Linked DNA regions of Homo sapiens: region 2 is linked to region 1. The links come from fine-mapping of genetic effects on gene expression. A gene starts in region 1. The other region holds a variant in brackets. All regions are shown on one strand. Distances are from middle to middle.

Evidence for each region. PIP is the estimated chance that this variant, and not a neighbour inherited with it, causes the effect.
Region 2: its variant is the best candidate, but not a certain one, in a credible set for the expression of MANCR in subcutaneous fat (GTEx, PIP 0.85).

What each region holds. Positions count from the first base shown.
Region 1 is chr10:4,676,689-4,679,618 of GRCh38, forward strand. MANCR (mitotically associated long non coding RNA) reads right to left here and starts at 1,382. Exons shown (of 4, transcript NR_024475.1): 1 at 1,361-1,382. LOC105376373 (a long non-coding RNA gene) reads left to right here. Exons shown (of 4, transcript XR_001747338.2): 2 at 1-131; 3 at 2,715-2,887.
Region 2 is chr10:4,641,367-4,644,296 of GRCh38, forward strand. No RefSeq gene overlaps it. Among named protein-coding and RNA genes, the nearest start is that of LINC00705, 13 kb to the right of the region's middle. The variant CT/C (reference allele first, on the strand shown) is at 1,618.

The sequences.
Region 1 (2,930 bases):
TAGGGAAGACAGCCATGTGGAGACAGAGGCAGAGGTGGACCTGCTGCCGCAAAACCACAGGGCGCCAAGTACTGTGGGCCACTGAGAAAACTAAAGGAGAGGAAGGATTCTTCCCTGGAGCTTTGGAGAGGGTGCGGCCCTACTTTCACCTGGATTTCAGACTTCAGACTTCCAGAACCATGAAGGAATAAGCTCTCTTTGTTTCAAAACCACTCAGTCAAGGCACTTTGTTACAACAGCCTAGGAAACTAATACAGGAATTGGTATTAGTAAAATCATTATTGTTGGCTCATATGACCATACTCATAGAACTTTTAAGATAATATGTAAATAAGCAACTAAAACAAAAAGTCAGAAAGCTTTATGGTGCCAGATCAATATACAAATAAATATCATTATTTTCCAATAAAAACAATTATATAATGTAACAATAATAAAGTAATAATACAAAGAAACTTCCCATAATAGCTACCAAAAATTCTAAAGTAGTTATAACTAGTTTTTAAAAATAATATGTTCAGAAATTTTATATAAACAAATATAAATTTTAAGTTAAAAAGAAAAAGAAATGGATAAATACATCATTAATGAAGTTTCAATCAAAATTCATACATGAATATTTCACAGAATTTGACAAGTATATCTAAAAATTATTTTAAAGGAGTAAAACGAGCTTGGAATTATTTGAAGAAGAAAGTATTTATCCTTTTGTATATTAAGAGTTAGCCTAAGTCTCCCGGGACTCAATGGTATCACCTCTCTAACAAAAAAGGTCACAGAGATATGAAAACACATCATAAAAAAATCTATCGTTTTATCACACAATGATTTGATCACCTGTGCACATGGAAACAACCTTATTTTAAATCCTTGTTTAGAGTCAATTTTAAGGGATAATGTTGCATGTGAAGCTCCATAATCATTCTTTTGTGTTAAGTGGTTGAGGAAAATATCAGGCTGGTGAGATGTTAATTATAGGTCCAGGGAATAACTTGAGTTAATAAATCAGAGATGAGTCCAAAGTTCTGTAAACAAGTTTCAACATTTCTGGGCACCTGAGATTAAGCACAGCTCTGAGAAGTGCTCCACACGTTCCTAAGTATATGATGCAAGTTTTACTTTGGCAAGAAAATGTAACTATATCTAGTACCCACCTTAGGAACATGAATGACGAAATGGAGATTTCACATTTGCCAGATGAATAGGACTAATGTAGAAAAACAAATCAAACTGTCCTTTACTCTCAGTCAACCCCCTTCTCAATAACAAAAACATCCACATATCCACATTGTCCATCTATTTTAAGGTCAATATAGTATGGATATTATACCAACTTGCAAAAATAAATTAAACCACTTACCACAGGTATCCTCCAACATCATTGGCACCATTAAATAACATTCATTCAGAACTACTTTTAGTGAATGTAGATACTTAATGTTTACAGACGAGGAAATCTGAATGGTACGAAACAAACAGAGACTTGTTCAAGGTCTCACACTGACTCAGCAGCAAAGTCCACATAGGAAGTGAATGTTCCTGAAGTAGCACATTTTGTTTGGACTACAAGACCAACTGAGTTATTATCTTTATTTGAAAATGATTCATGCAAGTCTGCCACAGATGAAGGCAAGCTGTGGAATTCTTACTCAAACTCTTTGTTGTTATTATGGGAAAGCTTCAAGTCTGGGGTTTTTTGTTTGTTTGTTTAATACCTCATATTTGTTATCCGAAAAAAACAAACAGCGTTCATTCACCTGTCAAGCAACAAACGACTCTCCACGAGAATGCAGATTTTGATCAATAGGAGTTTTATTACTTGGCTCAAGTAAGGGGAGCACTGGGTGTATTCTCCAAAGCAGTGTCTCCCTGAGGGAAAGTGGCAGGAGGGTTTTATGGGGTGATGGAGAGGGGAGAGGGTGCATTATCGCATGTAGATGAGGGGTCCCAGCGGTGCAGACACAGTGTCATCATGGCAACACATGGGTTACATGTTATGATAACGGAACTACAGTTCCTCCAGGATGGAGACGTTACAGTCATGAGGAAGATTCACCAGGGTTCATCTCTAAGTTGCCAGGGTCTGTCAGGAGCTGGTTTCAACCAACTAGGTTACTATAGTCCACCCAGGGTTTAGGGAAGAACAGGCTGCAGGGCAGGAAGCTGTAAATCAGGCTGATGGCTCACGTGGATTAAACTCCTATGGTTCCTAGAGACCCTCCTTGTCTGCTTATATATCCTAGAACTGAAAAATAAATTGAAAAGTGAAGTGGTTATGGTGGTCGCACTTCTGAATTCTGGTATGCCCCTCCTACCTCCCCCTACTAAGTAAAGAAAGATAAATCAGTCGTCTTAACAGTATTTAAAACAGCCCTTCCCAAAAACTCAATACATGAAACTTTCTTTCTAGTTGATCTTTGTACCAAATGATCTGGCCAATAAAGGAATAAAATCTTTGAGCTCAAATAACCATGAAAATGCAATACCCGATTTTCCTAAATGCACTTCCTAATGTGAAGGCCATTCACAAAAGCAAATATCCACCCCAGATTCTACTGGGTATGAAACATCTCAATGACTGATACTTCATCTTATCACCTGAAAATTAAATAATTTTATTACAAAAAGAATTAGTAGATTATATTGCTAAATCAAGTTTAGCCTAGAGCTGCCTCCTTACATATTTTAAGTTCAGTCTAAACGTTTCTCTGTAGGTAATGAACTGTAACCTCACTGGACGTGTAAACAGACTGTGACCTACCTACTCTTGTGCCAATCATGGAGTTTCAGCCAATCACAGGCGGCCGGCTGTTCAAACCATGTTTAAATAAGGCAAACGCAGAGCTGTAAGCAATCTAGGTGTTTCTGCACCTCTCGTCCATTTTCTGTAAGTCCTTTTTCTGTTCATAAATCTTCTTCCATCACGTGGC
Region 2 (2,930 bases), 35 kb before region 1:
GCAGGGCTTTCAGAGGAGAAAAGACCAAATCCAATGGGTATGTATACTTATAATAAACTTCAGGGTAGATGTCACCTTTCAGGGTTATTCAATAGGATTTCGTTGTCCCAGTGGGAAATTCTATTTTATACCCTGTTATTTCACAGACAATAATCCTGTTGAGATCAATGTACTACCAGCACAGGAAATTACAGATAGGAACTTGAATTATAAGTTCACCCCATGACAAAAATGAATTGCTTTCATTTTTTTATGTAGTCTGTTTCTAGACACTACATCCAATTGTTGCTGAAATGGCCGTGAGAGTTGTAATGGTAATATATTGAAACTTGAATGTGTCTCTAGTTTATGTGCTTTGTTTGTATTATCATTTTAATTTCTGTGATTAATTGATTTAATATTTTTAAGCCATAAAAATATATGCTTGGTGTGCTTTGAAAAACAAATATTTAAAATATGCCTCCATTTCTTTTGTCAAAGTGCGTGTAATCTGTTTGATTTTGCCAAGGTGGTGAATAAGCCACTCTGGCCAGACCAGTGTATATCCAAATTAGGAGGACGTAAGTAGTTATGTGACATTAGGGATGTGCTAGTTCTGACAACACACAGAATACAGACACAGAAAGTACATCTTAGTTTGTAATAGAGCCCCAAGGAGCTCTGACAAAATTGACAAAATGAGGCTTTGTTGAAGTAAGGGAAATCATTCAGCTAATGCAAATAAGTTAAATTTAAGTAGGAAGGAATATGCATGTACACATACATATGTAATATTAGACATTCAGAATTTTCATTAATATGCTTTTATTTTAATAAACATTGGATTCTATTTAGAAAGGAGAACCAATCCCATGGGAAATCCTGATCAAGTGCTGGATATTGAGTGGTGAACAGCATACAATGCCCACTTATAAGGTGCTTTATAAAACAGGTAAGCAAACAAGCTGTCATACTTGGTTAGTTTTTCTGAAATCAAATTTTGGGAGGAACAAAACTACACATTTTGTCCTGGAGAAGACAAGGAAGGCTTTCTAGGGCCACAATATGTAAGGACCAGAAATGCAGGTATAGTGGGGTTGGGGGGTAGATGGCGTTGGGTGTCACTGGGAAGAAAGGCCAAATGTCTAATTCCACATTCTCTCTGCTCTTGGCACCCAAGGTCCTTCTTATCTTCTGTCTTCTAAATAGTTTTTCCTACAACTTGCCTCAACATCTCTTTTTTCTTCACACTGTAAGGTTGTTGTAACACCAATAGCAGTCTCACTTCCAAAATTACAGTTTTATGCATTTGATTATTTGAATACTTCCTCCTTTTTTCTTACCTTCAAATTCAGTAAAATCTACACTCTTTTGGCCATCGTGTTAGTTTTCTATTGCTGTGTAACAAGATATCACAAACATAATGTCTTAAAACTACACCTATCATTGAGTTCCTAGACCATAGATCAGAAATCCAGGCAGGCTCAACTCTCTTCTCTGTTTACCATCTCACAAGGCAGAAATCAATGTGCGAGTCAGGATGAGCTCTCTCAGGAGACTCAGGGAACAATACATTCCCAAACTCATGTAGATTTTTGGAAGAACTCAGCTCCTAGTTGGTGTAGGCCTAAGGTCCTC[CT/C]TTCCTCCTGACTGTTAGATAGCGGCCAATCTCAGCTCCTGGAGGCTGTGCACATTCCTCATAACATGTTTTTCCAAGCCTATTATGGTGCATGAAATCCTTCTCGTCCTTGGAATCTCTCAAACTTCTACATCCTCAGAGAAAACTCTGCTTTTAAAGGACTCATGAAGTTAACTTAAGCCCACCTGGACAATCTTTCTATCTTAAAAGTCAATGGCTCACCAACCTTAATTACATCTTCAAAATCTTTTTTGTCATTTAACACAACCATAGCACCAGAGTAACTCAAGGAGACCATCTTGAGAATCTACCTACCACATTCAAGTGAATTTTTCCATGTTCATATTCCATTTTTAATCCTCATTTCCTCTCCTCCCAACTTAGGTTTTTCATCATCAATATACTCAGTACAACCATTTCCTTACAAATACTTTCCGTTATCTTGCTTCTCTCTTGTGTGCATACTAGCCTGGCAAAACTGTAACTCAAATAATTGTATACCTCAGTCTACTTTACCCCCATACTGGATCAACTGAATGTGAATGTATTTTTTTAAATGCAAGCATAATGAATGGACTCATCTTTATTTTTTAATCACACGTATCAACTAAGTCCTCAGTACTGTCCAGCAATCCCTTTACATTTCTTTAGTAAGTTTGCTTTTCCCCTTTTTGAGTACATGATTTCAAAACTTCCTCTTTCTCCATATGCATTTAGTCTTTTCCCTTTGTCATGTTTTTCCAAAGAACTGCCTTTTTACATCATTAAGAAATAAAGCAATATAATGAAAACTTTGATCTGCCTTATCTGACCACCATAAATCTACTGATCTCTATACTCTTTGCCATAACCTCTTGCCTACTCAAAGATTTTGCTCTAGCAATTCATTCTTTTCTGATGATAACTGCATCATCAGTTTCTGCCTCACATCTACGTACAGACATCATCTCATCTTAAATTCAAAACAGGCCTTCTATTTCTTCCATTGCTGCCTGCTGTCTCTGCTCCCCTCAACAACAAATCTTCTTGCTAAAGCCACCCACACTCTTCCCCCACATTCTTTCTTGAACACACTCCAATCAAACACCCCAGTGCTCCATCAAACCTGCTTCTTTTCAGTGTTCACAGGACTTTCACTTTACCACGTCCAACAGCCAATCTTCGATTTCCATCTTGTTCTGACTCCATGTTGCTACAGTAGAAATTGTTTTCCACTCGTACTTCGTGACTCTTGACAATCTCCGTGGGACCATCCTATCCATCTAGGGAATCCCATTCTTCAGGAGGCTTAGTCCTGAGACCTCTCTTTGTT